Linked DNA regions of Homo sapiens: all the other regions are linked to region 2. The links come from fine-mapping of genetic effects on gene expression. A gene starts in region 2. Each other region holds a variant in brackets. All regions are shown on one strand. Distances are from middle to middle. Region 1 overlaps PZP (PZP alpha-2-macroglobulin like). Region 2 holds the start of PZP (PZP alpha-2-macroglobulin like). Region 3 overlaps PZP (PZP alpha-2-macroglobulin like).

The links. PIP is the estimated chance that this variant, and not a neighbour inherited with it, causes the effect. A credible set is the group of variants that fine-mapping cannot tell apart.
Region 1: its variant is the best candidate, but not a certain one, in a credible set for the expression of PZP in nasal epithelium (TOPMed, PIP 0.83).
Region 3: its variant is the best candidate, but not a certain one, in a credible set for the expression of PZP in testis (GTEx, PIP 0.60).

Annotation. Positions count from the first base shown.
Region 1 is chr12:9,180,386-9,185,619 of GRCh38, reverse strand. It overlaps PZP (PZP alpha-2-macroglobulin like), which reads left to right. Exons shown (of 36, transcript NM_002864.3): 14 at 3,503-3,645; 15 at 4,488-4,637. It also overlaps a transcript of KLRG1 not described here. Among named protein-coding and RNA genes, the nearest start is that of PZP, 25 kb to the left of the region's middle. The variant G/C (reference allele first, on the strand shown) is at 2,877.
Region 2 is chr12:9,206,392-9,211,625 of GRCh38, reverse strand. PZP (PZP alpha-2-macroglobulin like) reads left to right here and starts at 3,231. Exons shown (of 36, transcript NM_002864.3): 1 at 3,231-3,367. The coding sequence starts at 3,285. It also overlaps a transcript of KLRG1 not described here.
Region 3 is chr12:9,159,822-9,165,055 of GRCh38, reverse strand. PZP (PZP alpha-2-macroglobulin like) reads left to right here. Exons shown (of 36, transcript NM_002864.3): 20 at 797-923; 21 at 1,267-1,388; 22 at 2,408-2,459; 23 at 3,940-4,023; 24 at 4,566-4,742; 25 at 5,031-5,118. It also overlaps a transcript of KLRG1 not described here. Among named protein-coding and RNA genes, the nearest start is that of PZP, 46 kb to the left of the region's middle. The variant G/A (reference allele first, on the strand shown) is at 2,950.

The DNA.
Region 1 (5,234 bases), 26 kb after region 2:
TTAGGGATGACTTTCTTGTGAAGTATATTTTGGGGTTCTCTTCATTTCCTGAATATGAATTTGGCCTCTCTAGCTAGGAGGGGAAGTTCTCATGGATGATATCCTAAAATATGTTTTCCAAGTTGCTTTCATTATGCTCATCTCTTTCAAGGATATCAAGGAGTTGTAGATTCAGTCTTTTTACATAAATAATCCCAGATTTCTCAGAGGTTTTGTTTATTCCTTTTCATTCTTCTTTCTTTATTCTTGTCTGACTGTTGTATTGCAGAAAGTCAATTTTGTGGCTCTGAGATTCTTTCCTCAGCTTGGTCTGTTCTGCTGTTAATACTTGTGATTGCATTACGAAATTCTTGTAGACTGTTGTTCAGCTCTGTCAGGTTGGTTATGTTCTTTTCTATACTGGCTATTTTGTCTGTCAGCTTCTGCATCATTTTATTGTGATTCTTAGCTTCCTTAGATTAGGTTTCAACATTCTCCTGAATCTCAATGACCTTCATTCCTATCCATAGTCTGAATTCTATTTCTGTCATTTCAGCCATCTCAGCCCTATTAAGAACCCTTGCTGGAGAACTGGTGTGATTGTTTGGAGGAAAGAAGATGCTCTGGCTCTTTGAGTTGTCAGAGTTCTTGTGCTGGTTCTTTCTCATCTTTGCGGGCTGATGTTCCTTCACTCTTAGAAACTGCTGTTGTTTTGATTTTTTCCTTTTATCCTATTCGATGACCTTGGAGGTTTGATTGTGGTATAAGGTGAGTTCAGTCAACTGACTTTGTTACCAGAAGATTTGGGGGCAGTGGAGGCAGGGAGGAGCAAGGCTCAGTTCAGGACTCCTGGATTGCATGCTGTAACTCTGGGGAACTGGTATCTGGCTCCAGCTTTGTTCTCTGGCTCCTTGAGGTTAAGAACATGTTGCACTGAAGGGACCAAGGTGCTCCCAGACCACTGGTCACAACACTTCCATGGGTGATGTCAGCCAAAGCACTTTGCAGGATGGTAGCAGTGGGATCCCTCCTCATTCACATGTACCAGCAGCATGGCAGTGGCAGCGTGGTGGGGTACACGCTCATCAGCTGTGGCAGGGTGCTAGCAGGTGCCAGGTTGCTGGCCTTTGTGCAGGCATTCATAGCAATGATCATGGCAGTATGACTCAGGGGATTGGGGGATCCCCACTAGCAACTGTGCATGCATTTGCACTGACGGTGGTGTTAGCATGGGGGTGGGGCACTGGTGGGTGCAGGACTGTATGAACCTTTTGTGTGCATTCATACTGGTGGCAGTGTCTGTACATGGCTAGGGGTGGGTTTGTGTGTTTTGTGCCTAGTTTTGCACTGGCAGCTCCATTGCAGGGGCAGGGTGCTGGCAGGGGTGGGGTTGGCGAGCTTAGTGCCTGCCAATGCTCTGATGTCAGTGGCTGTGTGGTAGGAGTAGGGGTGATGGAGGACACTCACGCTGCCAGCAGTGGCAAGGCAGGGTGCACACACACACATGTGTTGGCAAATTTTATTATTAAAAGCTTTAATTTCCTACCACTATTCTTTGCCATAAAGTCACCATAATTTTTTTTCTGGTTTTATGACATTTCAATCTACCCCACTTTCCTTGTTGAACTCAAGACAGTGATAAAAGGGCTTCCTTCCTTTTAGAAGGGGAGCTTATTTCCTTTTTGAGGTCTGAGCTAAAACTTGATCTGTCCAACTGAACACAAATATGAATGGCATAACACTGCCTTAAGGATATTTTAAGCTTCCTTTCTTCCCAAACTTAAGAGCTTTGCAGTATAAACACATAGTGATATAAAATAAGTAATGTTAAGCTAAAGTCAAATTTGCATGAAGTTGGAAAAATTCCACATTCTACGTAGAGTTATAACAATTTTTAATTGAGTGCCACCAATCTCAGGCTTTAATATAATCATTTTAAAAAAGTAAATTTTGGCCGGGCACATTGGCTGCTGCCTGTAATTGCAGCATTTTGGGAGGATTGCTTGAACCGAGGAGTTTGGGACCAGCCTGGGCTACATAGCAAGATCCTATCTCTACAAAAATATATAAAAAATTAGCCAAACGTGGTGTTGTGCACCTATAGTCCCAGCTACTGGGGAGGCTGAGGCAGTACAATCACTTGAGCCCAGAAATTCGAGGCTGCAGTGAGCTATGATTGCACCACTGCATTTCAGCCTGGGCAACAGAGCAAGACCCTGTCTCAAAAAAAAATTACATTTATTTAAGGTGTACAACATAACGTTATGGGACACATATAGATAATAAAATGACTACTATAGTGATGGAAAGTAACATGGCCATCATCTCACCTACTTACTCATTTGTGTATGTGTGGCAAGAACAGCTAAAATGCACTCATTTGACAAAAATCTAAAATATAGTACCATTTTATTAACTACAGTCTTCATGTTGTGTGTTAGATAGCTAGCCTTGTTCATCCTGATATTATACTTTGTAAAATATTCCTAAGGGTATTAGACTTAATTTTTAATACATATGGTTAAGAAAAAAATAAAATCAATTATAGTTCTTCTACAATTCTAATTGTCCTTGTCCTACATTATTTTGAGTTTCAACAATGTCGAGAGACTCTGTTATCCTATGTATTGTCTAACTGCACCAAGAATATGTTACTGGAAAAGAACTTGGAAGCACAGGAATTTAAAGCCATATAGCTGGGAATCTGGGACAGGAGGGATGTAGAGAAAAGGAAGACATGGAAATAATACCAGAGAGTATCTGTCCTTTATGTACAGGCATCTCAGAAACTTTTCAGTCATTAAGTCTCTCGTGGTTTTATAATTACCGTTATTCAACTAAATGTGGGCCATCTACTCAAGTCCCCAGTGGACCATTCAGAAAATGGAACTTTTGTT[G/C]TTGCCCTTTTGTAGCTACCTGGTGGCCCTTCACCCTGCTTTAAAATGTAAAGTATTTTCTGAAGTGTTATCTGGTACCATTTAATGCTTCCAGTAGAAATATACCAATGTACTTATAAGAGTTTAACACTGCAATGAAAACTCCAAGAATTAAATATTCTTTTAGGAAGTTCAATTAGTATGAACTTTTTTTTACATACAGAGCTTTTTAAAAGTCATATATGACAAAATAAACTTATTATATCTTACAAATTATAGCTCTATATTTAAATTGAGAATCACCTCTAGTCTGAAATGTAAATAAAATAGTTGTCACATATATATGCAGAAAATTTGGAGCTACTGATATTTAATTGATTTAGGCAACAGTTAAGTGGAATATCAAATAAAAAAGATGTGAGTGAAAGGAACTTTGTTAACTTCTGCTATAATTAAAGTTCTGAAGGGAGACATTGGCCTACTAATTTCACCAAATAACTAATGGCACATAGAGAGACTAAGCCATTAGAATGAATGGACGCAGTTCTCAAGTGGATAAGACCAAGCAATAGTGTCCTTATGACACTATTTTTATGACCTTTTTGTCTCACTTATGACCATTTTGTCTCACTCTCTCCATGTTCCAGTGAAAGGCAGTTTTGCCTTATCCTTCCCTGTGGAGTCAGACGTTGCCCCCATTGCACGAATGTTCATCTTTGCCATTTTACCAGATGGAGAAGTTGTTGGAGACTCTGAAAAATTTGAGATTGAAAACTGTCTAGCCAACAAGGTGAGCGATTTAACATAAAATTAAAAGAACACAAATAAATGATACTGTAGGTGCCATCTATTTTACCCCAGAGAAAACTAAGTCCAGAAAAGTAAAATGAGTTGCCCAACAGTTCCCAACAAGTTTATGGCAGACCCAAATTTCTAGGGATCTAGTACAGCACTTTTTCAATTACACAAAGCTGCTACCAAATAAAATACAATCAGTTTTGTGTTCATGATGCTCTTCTCTGCTGATTCAGTTGTGTGAGTATGTAAAATGCTAAGACTCAAAAGTTCCCAAAACCTGAAGAATAAGTGTAAACACCTAGAATTACCTTATCATGTGTCAGAGATAAAGATGGCCATCTAAAAATCTAACAAGGTATCTATCCTTATTCTGCCTCAGTTATCTCCTTAGGACAAGACTAAGCTACCGAGAAGCTATATTTTGTTAAGATTCCCCACTTATGTAATAGTCATGTTTAAAAGAGTGAGTAAATTAATGTGTCGCCAAAGCATTAGATAATTTGGATCCTGTCTAAATAGAATCACTTTTGATCACTGGAGTAGGTAAGCTTGTTATAAAATTAATACTTGCAAACATAAGGGAAGTCATGTACCTTTTAACAGATCTAACTATTTATGTCTCTAGAGTTGTTGGGATCTGTGAAAGTGGTAATAAGTGATTTACAAATTATTTTCTATTTTTAAAGTGAAGGAAAGTTGTAAAAATAGGTTTCTGACTGACATTACCAACATAGTCATATGAACTGAATATAAGGGTGGCTTAGGAAATGCAGGTGACTGCAAGATCACAGAAGTAGGGAAAACACTGGTTGACGTTTCCTTCATTTCCCACAGGTGGATTTGAGCTTCAGCCCAGCACAAAGTCCCCCAGCCTCACATGCCCACCTGCAAGTAGCAGCTGCTCCGCAGTCCCTCTGTGCCCTTCGTGCTGTGGACCAAAGTGTGCTGCTCATGAAGCCTGAGGCTGAGCTCTCTGTGTCCTCAGTGAGTTTCCAGTGGCCTTGGGGACCAGGAAGGGCCATTCCAGAGGCTCAGATCAAGAAGCCTCTATTAGCCCTTTGTCAGATGAGTAGGTTGCGAAAATTTTCTCCCATTTTGTAGGTTGCCTGTTCACTCTGATGGTAGTTTCTTTTGCTGTGCAGAAGCTCTTTAGTTTAATTAGATCCCATTTGTCAATTTTGTCTTTTGTTGCCATTGCTTTTGGTGTTTTGGACATGAAGTCCTTACCCATGCCTATGTCCTGAATGGTGATGCCTAGGTTTTCTTCTAGGGTTTTTATGGTTTTAGGTCTAACATTTAAGTCTTTAATCCATCTTGAATTGATTTTTGTATAATGTGTAAGGAAGGGATCCAGTTTCAGCTTTCTACATATGGCTAGCCAGTTTTCCCAGCACCATTTATTAAATAGGGAATCCTTTCCCCATTGCTTGTTTTTCTCAGGTTTGTCGAAGATCAGATAGTTGTAGATATGCAGAGTTATTTCTGAGGGCTCTGTTCTGTTCCATTGATCTATATCTCTGTTTTGGTACCAGTACCATGCTCTTTTGGTTACTGTAGCCTTATAGTATAGTTTGAAGTCAG
Region 2 (5,234 bases):
TGAAGTTCCAGTAACTAATCTCCACCCCAAATGGAGATCTACAAATTTCCCCCCAAAATTCAAAATAATCATCTTAAAGATGCTCAGTAAGATGCAAGAAAACACAGATAGACAACTAAATAAAATTAGAAAAACAATGTATGAACAAAATGAGAAGTTTAATAAAGAAATAGAAACCATTAAGAAAAAACACACAAAAATTATATAAGAACAGAACTGAATATTTTAATGGAGAGCTTCAACAGCAAACACAGTCACACAAAAGAAAGAATTAGTAACTTGAAGACAGGTCATGTAAATAGTTAATTAAAGGTGAAAAAAGAAAAAAAATTAAAGAAGAGTGAAGAAAGTATAAGGGACCTATGGAATACCATCAAGCATGCAAATACACATATTATGGGAGTCCTAGAAGGAGAAAAGAGGGAAATGAGCAGAAAGCTTATTTAAAGGAATACTGGAAGAAAAATGTAAAAGCTAGAGTATTGGTGGCAATATGGGGATACGAAAATCCTCATGCACTACTGGTAGAATTGTGGTGTGATGCAACCATTCTGGAGAGTTATTTGTCACTATTTAGTCACTTAAGTACATGCCTCTCATACAACAATCTCACTCCTGTGTATGCGTCTTGCAAGAGGATTTACCTGTCTCAAAGGGTATATGTAAAAAGATATTTATCAAAGCATTATTTCCTCATGGCAGGACAATAGAGACAATCCTGTTTTTATCATTAGGAGAGTGGAAACATTAAACCTCTTGGATGATCACCAAAGAGGGCTATACTGTAATAAAATGCAATTAATAAAATACATACATATAAACATATAAACATGGGAGGATGTTTTAAAACTAGCAATAACTAAAAAGAATAAGAAACAGGCAAGGTCTTTTTCCAATACTCTTTATATAAAATAAAAATACACACTTAAGACTTTCCTTTCCAGTAATGGTATACAAGGTAATTGAGACCAAACTTCCCACTTAAATTAGGAATGGTTGGTTATATATATATTCACTGGAGGTATTGAAAAGCAAAGACTGTGAAGAATTATGAATCCAAAGTTCAGAAGCAACATAGCAACCCAAAGGGGCAATTCTGTGTTTAAGGGCACTTTCCCCTTAGGGTATTTAACAGCTCCAGAATATTTGGCTGAGAGATTTAGAAGCACATTTTAAAGCCTTTAGTAAATAAAATTGCAGCGTCTAGAGTCCAAGGCTCATGAAACTGGGGCAAGGAGATGTTCCTGATAGACCCTTTACATATTGTGTTGAGATATCAAACTGATGGTAGAATTCAAATGGTCCATAAACATATGAAAAGATGTGTAAAGTCATTAATAATGAAAATTAAGGCAAGATACTGCTTCACTCATCAGATTGATAAAAAGTAAAATGCCTAGCAGAGTAAAACGATGGTAAATATATAATAAACTGAAAATATCCACTGTTGCAGATGGGTATTCAAATCCATGTAATACTCTGAAGAGCAATTTACCAATCTGATAGATTTCAAGATGTACATACATATATAGCCTATAACCCAATCTCTGCTATATACCCTAGAGAAAGTCTTGCAAATATGCTTAAGTAGACATACCGTATTTGTAGCAGTATTATTTGTAATGTTGAAAACTATGAAGAATCCAAAATTCAGCACTAGGGGAATAGAGTAACAGGTTCGGCCACATTCATACAATAGAATGTCGTATAGATGGTCATTAAAATTAATAAATTTTATCCTCATTATCAATGCTAATAAGTCTTAAAACCATAATAGTGATGACATATTTTACAATATGTGCATACCACTTATACATATAAAATACAAAACACAAAATTATGCTATATATTATTTACATAAATATGGATTAAAAACATAAACACATCTTGAAGAATACATATCAACTTCCTAATCCCACAACATTGGAAGGGAAATGAGATTGGAGAGAATTACAAAGGAAACTCCAACCATATTTGTCTTGATTTATTTCTTTTTTTGGGTTGGTGGATCTGGTAAAAACTGGAAAAGCTTCTAGACAAATTTTAAAAGAGCACTACCATTGCCATCTTTCATTTCTTAAGAAGAAATGACCTTAAACAAACTTGGCAAGTGTTTAATTTTATTAAAGTTGGGTGCATGTAAGGTACGAGTGTCTTTTATCTTGCTCTCTATATTTGTGAGTATATATATATATAACATTTCATAATTTAAAAGAAATTATTTCATTCTATGATAATGTGACAAAAGAAACAAAGATGTGAAATAAAAACTAATAGGAAGGAATCCACTTTCAGCAGTGTGGCCAGGAATTTGCTCTCCAAAGAAGGGATGATTAGGCTGAAATATGGAGAAAGAGAAAGAAAGTTGATTTAAAAAGTTTCAAGCAATACAGTATGTAAACAGACACCAATGTCTGCAGTCTAAGGATGGCATTAAATCTGCTGGTGGTTTATATGTGATCATCATTGTACTACAAGTTCTATGAGAGCATGGATACTGAATATCCTGTTCAATATTGTATTTTCATCACCAGAATAGCACTTAGCACACAGTATGGCTCAAAAAAAAAATCTCAGATAAAGTCAATGACATGGTTTAAGGGACTCAAACGTTAGAGTGCTCAGACAGTAACAAGGACAGATAGGATCAACTAAGAATCTGATCAGGTCAATGCTGTGAAATAGACAAGTGTGATCTTTGATAACTCCTTTCTAAAATCTCTTTGATCTTTTATCTCTTTTATCTTTCATTGATCCTCTACTCTTGAAATCCTTATTTTATATCACTTTCTTCCAGGACCATGTACTCAATCAACTGCTAAAAAAGAAAACCCAAAAACCCTAAAGTCTATAGTTATAACTCACTCAGTCCCAGAAATGAATCTGCAATGCATGAGCTACTATCATGGTAACATGTCCCTGACATTCTTTGTCAGCATCCTTTGTCACCTGCTTGTAAGGATTTTGAAAGAGATGGAGAAAGGTAGGTTGAAGGTTCCTTATCAGGAGGTTTGCTGTCAAAGCTCATTCTAAATGGAATACAAATTTTATCTTCCAGACATGCCTCAGTACCTATCAGAATTTAGCCTTGAGAAAAATGAGGCAACCACTGAGAGTAATGACCCTTTTAGGGAATCTGTGCTCAATTCTGAACTCTATTCAGAGGCCTTGGGGTGGGGCTTGTTTGTACATAGTGGCCACATAAAGCCTGGTAAACTCAGCTGGTCTCCAGGGCGAGGCTGAGGGCAGAGAGTTGGACACAACCCTGAGATTTATCCCTCACAATGCGGAAAGACAGACTTCTTCATTTATGTCTTGTGCTACTTCTTATCCTGCTTTCTGCCAGTGACTCAAACTCTACAGAACCGTAAGTCTCACTCAAGACCCCTTCCTCCAGAGTGCGTTTCAGTCTCTCCCTTGTGTCTTCGCTTTGCCTTCCTTTGTAAATGCCACCTTTCCACTCATTACAATACCTTCCAAATATAAGAAATTATTCCAGTTAATCCCTTGTTTGTCTTTCATTTATCCTCTATTCTTGAAATCATTTTTTCTACACTGGGCCAATCAGAGTCATAAATACGATTAGTCACTAGGAAGCATGATTAAATAAAACACTAGATCCCAACTTCACAGAACAGTTCTTTTGGATGGAAGGCACTGAATATAGAGATATTCGAAATATATAGTGAAGTGCAACTTAACATGTATTGTAGGCCATATATATATATACAGAAAGTATAGCTCCTTTATTTTTCAATCATGTATCAAGTCTTCACCAACAGCCCCCAGTGGGGGACCAAAGCAGGGAAAATAATTTTAACCCTATCCAGTTGTAAGTTGGTACAACTCAATAATTGTAAGACTTCTTTTCCACCTCTCCCCAGTTCCTCTCCTCTATAGTGTCTAGAGAACTGTGGTCTCCATTAACTCCTAATAGAGAAAACTGTCAGAGTCCTTGGTCTCAAAGTTCTCCGTCCTTCTTGGCTACTGTCAGTCTGACTTCTCCTTACTTGCTGGCATGCACTGTTGAAGTTTAGCCATCTGGTTTCTCTTGTGTGTTCAGGACCCAACAGTCCTCTCTAACTGACTGTCTCACTTCAGCTGTTTCATATCCCATAGAACTCCTACCTTTGCATCCTGCCTCAAATACTATGGCTATTGTTTCAACACAGCCTGTGATGCAGGGTCACCTTGCCCCTTTGCAGTCCAGGCCATTTAAGGTCCCTGGCCTTAACCCAGCTGCCTTTACATTTCTTCCAGAGAATGGTGAGAACTCTTGGGTCCAATAATAGCACATAGGCACTGAGGTGTCCTGGAGAGGTTAAACTTCTACCTCTCTCTTGCATACCCACACTGCACTTCTAGATGCCTATCGTGTCTCCTGTATTCCAGACTGATACAGGGAAGTCTTCAGAGTCCCAAATCGGGAAAGGGATAAGGGGTCCCTCTGCTCTGTGTGTTACCCTTATCCATCTAACACAAATAGCCTTCTTCAGGCCAAAGCGCAGAAAGCAGAAATAAGGAGTTCAATCCAGTAAGTCTCCTGCTTTCCTCAGGCTTTTTCCTTGCACAATTTCCTGGCAACCGGTAGGGGTACATTTCTCCCCCACTATCCCTCTACCTCATCTACAGCAGTGGGCTCTACTACTTCCAGCTGCTCTCCATCCAGAAAGCATATGGGAATATGTGGAGGCTATTTTGCTTTCTGAGAGCAGACTGAATGGATAAAGCGAGTAGCGTGTATTGGGTCAGAAACATTAAGCAATTTGTGGTTCTGGATGCATTCCTACACTACATTGGACCATGCTGCCATTGAAACCATCCTTTTACGTTGTGTCTGCCACTGAACAAAGAACAACAAGCCTCATGCCCTAGTTGTCACAAGCAGAAGGGGTGTTTTCTCCCTTTATAAGGAGAAAACTTAACTTCATCCCTCCAGAATTAACCCTTGATGTGATAAATGTGAGAGACTACAAAAGAGAACCAATAGCCATTCTCCCCTGCCTTGGGGCAGTAAGCTTCAGAAAGATGAAGGTTTCAGGGGAATAAAATGAAAAAGAGAAAATTAAAAGTTATCACTTTAATATTTGCTACATTTAGTCCCTGCTAAAGAGGCAAATATTTAAAATGCAAACATTCATGATTGAGTAAACATATATTAAAACATTTTAGCAGCTCACTACCAATGACATCTTGGGCAAGTTTGTCAACCTGGATTTGTTCTGATTTCAATA
Region 3 (5,234 bases), 47 kb after region 2:
CTAAGGATAATTCAAGGGATTGTGTGTTAGCACTGTGAATAATTAGTGCTATGCAAAGCAGGACATGATCAGAAAGATAATACAATGATATATGTGCTATGGGTGCTTAAATCACGGCTCTCTAAGCCACACCTTGCTTTTCTATTTCTTAGCGCTTGCAGAATTCTTTGCTGCAAGTTAGGTTATATGCCAGGAACATTCTTGAAGCTGACACACAACTCAGCTTTCTCAGTTCCACGAGAGTCATTCTCCAACCCGTCATCTTGAAATCTCCAAAATATATAATTTTAATTTATCTTATAGCACTTATCTCTTTGTAAATTATGTAATAGTGGTTGTATATAGATCATCTTTCTTGTGACACAATATCCTCAAGATCGGGAGCCTCTCATCTACCATTCCCAGTGTTTTATGTCTTGTATGGATTAGACATGTAATATATGTTGTAAGAAATAGGAGAAGAAAGGAAGGAAGAAACTATGAAAATCTACATAGCAGCAGATAGTATTCCCTAGGGCAATATACAATCACTGCTTTTCCCTTTCCTCTGCCACTGCCAAGCCTGCACGTCCACAAGCTACCCTAAGGCAAATGCCAAATCCTCCTAATACACAACCAATCTTGATTTGTATCATTGCCATTGCCATGCTTCTTAAAGCATGGATGAATCTATGTGACATACATTTTTCTTACAAATCCCAATTTACTGCAGCATCTCACACTTGGCCCCAATTCTATGTGTTCGTGTCGTTCCATATTCTGATCATTTCTGTCTCTGCCTCACATGGGGTGATAGGTCAGTGTGCAGCTGAAAGCCTCTCCAGCCTTCCTAGCTTCCCAAAATACAAAGGGAGAAGAATCCTATTGTATCTGTGGAAATGAGAGACAAACCTTGTCTTGGACAGTGACTCCTAAAACTCTGGGTGAGTGACAGTACCCAAAAGGGCCTATCAATCAACAAGGACGGTGGCTGTCTGAGTACTTTTTTCATCATATTCTCTCTTTTATTTGCCATAGATATAATTCTATAAAGTTAGTTTTTTTTCCTATTTCTATCCACTATGACCTCCTCCCACTGTTCTCACCCAAGCTAGTCCCCAGAATCACTATCTTGGACATTGGCTACTTAGTATACATTAACCTTGTGGGTTTCTTTTTTTTTAGCCTTATTTTCTATTCTGGACAACTATAAGTTTAAGGTGCAGCCCTTAAAGGTGATTGGACTATCAAAGTGGATACTCATGTTTTCAATATTCCTTGTTTTAGGGAATGTGAACTTCTCAGTGAGTGCAGAGGCAATGCAGTCCTTAGAACTCTGTGGAAATGAGGTTGTTGAGGTCCCTGAGATTAAAAGAAAAGACACAGTCATCAAAACCCTGTTGGTGGAGGTAACATATTTTTGGGAGTCCCTAACAACTGTAAGAATGCAACACCGGGCGGTCACTCTTGAGACAACAAAGAACCATTAATATCATGCTCACACAATACATCCTGTAAGACTAATGGAATTTCCTGCCCTAAAAGCATTGCAGCAGACAACATTGCCAGCTATTGTAAATTTTTTTTCACAAATTATTTGAGTGCAATTTCCTTTTTTTTTTTTGAGACGGAGTTTTGCTCTGTTGCACAGGCTGAAGTGCAGTGTTGCGATCTCGGCTCACTGAAAGCTCTGCCTCCCGGGTTCATGCCATTCTCCTGCCTCAGCCTCCCGAGTAGCTGGGACTACAGGCGCCTGGCTAATTTTTTTTTTTTTTTTTTTGTATTTTTAGTAGAGACGGGGTTTCACCATGTTAGCCAGGATGGTCTCAATCTCCTGACCTCGTGATCCTCCCTTCTCGGCCTCCCAAAGTGCTGGGATTACATTGAGCGCAATTTCTTGATCTCCACCTCTCTCCTAAGATTCACATATCTCTCATACCCATTAGCTTTGATTTACTGCCCTTATTATCTCTTCCCATTTTCTCTCTACCACCCTCCCTGGTTCTTCAATGTTTTATGGATTTGTAATAATTCAATAACAAGTAGGATGTTATGTTCTCACTTATAAGTGGGAGCTGAATGATGCAAACACATAGACACATGGAGGCGAGCAACATATATGGGGCCTGTCTGAGAGTGGGAGTGACAGAAGGGAGAGCATCAGGAAGAATAGCTAGTGGATGCTGGGCTTAATCCCTAGGTGATGGGATGATCTGTGCAGCAAACCACCATGGCACACATTTACCTATGTAACAAACCTGCACCTCCTGCACATGTCCCCTTGAACTTAAAACAAAAGTTGGGAAAAAAAGAGTAGGATGGTAAACATCATTCGTGTAAACCCTACCCATCAAAGAAAGGAATCCATGTGGTTCTCTTGTCACCAGGATGTTTCTATCTTTTCTCCTTTTCTTTCCTTTCATCCAAGGCTGAAGGTATTGAGCAAGAAAAGACTTTCAGTTCTATGACCTGTGCCTCAGGTAAGAGTCCATCTTCATAATCATAGTGAGATCAAAACCACAAAGGGGTATAAACCTCAAGTTACAATGCACATTCATTTTATCTCCCAGTTTTCAGAGTGTTCCATGAAAGTCAGCATAATACTAAATATTTCTTTATGTATGTTTTACAGATGAAGACATTGAGCCCAAGAGAGCAAGTTAATGTGACTCAGGTGGTACAGACAGGACTAATACCTGGGCTTTCTTGGTTCATACGTAGCCCTTTTACCTGGATAGCCCAGTGGCTGCTCACTGACAAGCCCAGCTGCAGAAGCTTAGAGTGTCCCAGGATGAGGTAGAAAGAGAGCAGGGTTAGCCGGGTGTGGTGGCTCACATTTGTAATCCCAGCATTTTGGGAGGCTGAGGCGGGAGGATGACTTGAGGTCAGGGGTTTGAGAACAGCCTGGCCAACATGGTGAAACCCTGTCTCTACGAAAAAAACAAAAATTAGCCAGGCCTGGTGGCGGGC[G/A]CCTGTAGTCCCAGCTACATGGGGGGCTGGGGCACGAGAATCGCTTGAGCCGGGCAGGGGGAGGTTGCAGTGAGCCGAAATCACACCACTGCGCTCCAACCTGGGCAACAGAGTGAGACTCTTAAAAAAACAAACAAGCAAACAACAACAACAACAAAAACTAAAGACAGCAGGGTCATGATAAGTTTGAATCCCAAGAGATAGTCTCTAAAACAGCTGCTGACAAAACATATAGCATTTCCTACCCATCTCACTAAAAATGTGTGTTTTCCGTGTAGAAAATAATTTACATTTAAGTTCATCATATCATTAAGAAGTAGTTGTAGCTTTTATACAGAACCGCCACATTATTAGTTCTATGTCCACAGTGTATACAGCACTGTATTTGTCATTTGAGAAGGACTAATTTAAGGTATATTCATGTTATCTATTTATAAACATGGGAATCCATTCAAATATAGTGTAAGGGAGGCAGTAAAATAACTTGTATTATCATGGTTATAAGTCTTAATATTGCTACAAAAGTGGAGAGCGATAGTTCCCCCACTAAGTCTTAGGCTTCTTTTAGAAAGCTACTGAGCACAGCCATGCAAAAATATAGTTAAATGAGAAGAGGAAGGACTCTGGAAGTCACACAGTGCCAAAAGCAATTAGACTATCAAAGGTAGTCTCATCATTAAGTCAAATTCTTATTCCTTGCACCCAGAGTTCCACAAGGAGATATAATAATATTACTGCTAACTCTAATAATAAAATAACTGCAATAATAACAATTGCTCACATTCGTTGAAATTGAATATGTTGCAGATACTGTTCTGAATGTTTTACATGTGTTTTTTCCTCAAATCATCACAATTTACCCAAGGTCACAAAGCAGGGCCAGTACCATATCCAGGGAGTGTGGCTCTGAAGCTCTCACTACATTATAATCACTAAATTATATTGTAATCATAGATGTCCTCCTTTAACATGGGCTGTCTGTTTCTAAAGGTGCTAATGTGTCTGAGCAGTTGTCCTTGAAGCTCCCATCAAATGTGGTCAAAGAATCTGCCAGAGCTTCTTTCTCAGTTCTGGGTGAGTCACCTTCCATTTAGTAAACCTGGGCCAAAAGAGTTGCCACTGTACATCTTATCTACGTATTTGTATTTGAATTATCAAGTTCTTGATAGCTGCTATTCTTTTTTATTTTTTTGAGATGGAGTCTCGCTCTGTCGCCCAGGCTGGAGTACAGTGACGTGATCTCGGCTCACTGCAAGCTCCGCCTCCTGGGTTCACGCCATTCTCCTGCCTCAGCCTCCCGAGTAGCTGGGACTACAGGCGCCCGCCACCACGCCCGGCTAATTTTTTTGTATTTTTAGTAGAGACGGGGTTTCACCGTGTTCACCAGGATGGTCTCGATATCCTGACCTCATGATCCGCCCGCCTCGGCCTCCCAAAGTGCTGGGATTACAGGCGATAGCTGCTATTCTTATTAGGATTCTGGAAGTCACACTCTGTGTATATAACTTTTCTCTTACCTAAATGATAGACTCTGAATATAAAGGCCATTTTTGTTAATAATGTTGGCTATTTATGAACTGAAATTATTCTGACATCTAATCTTTCACATTCCCCAGGTGACATATTAGGTTCTGCTATGCAAAATATACAAAATCTCCTCCAGATGCCATATGGCTGTGGAGAACAGAACATGGTCCTATTTGCTCCTAACATCTATGTCTTGAACTATCTGAATGAAACCCAGCAGCTGACGCAGGAGATCAAGGCCAAGGCCGTTGGCTATCTCATCACTGGTAAGTGAGACAGAGAAAAATTTACTTTGTTACTCTAATGAAACTTTTCCCAATTAAGCTTCAGTTATATCATCAAATATTAACCCATGATGATAATTTTTATGAAAACAACAATCTTCCCACACTCTAATAGGATGTTGTGTTTGATCTATCCATAACATTCACAAAACTATGGCAGATCACAGAAGGTCATAAAATGTCCATGGCGCCTGGATGCATGAGCCTAAACATATGGATGGCCTGCCTTTCTTTAATGCTTCATGAACAATCTGAAGCCTTCCATTTCAGGTTACCAGAGACAGCTGAACTACAAACACCAAGATGGCTCCTACAGCACCTTTGGGGAACGATATGGCAGGAACCAGGGCAACACTTGGTAAGAAAGAAAATCTATTCTGAGTTTCAACTATGAGTTCAGAACGTGCACATAGATTACCTGTCTTAGTCCATTTTCTGTTGCTTATAACAGAATACCTGAAACTAGGTAATTTA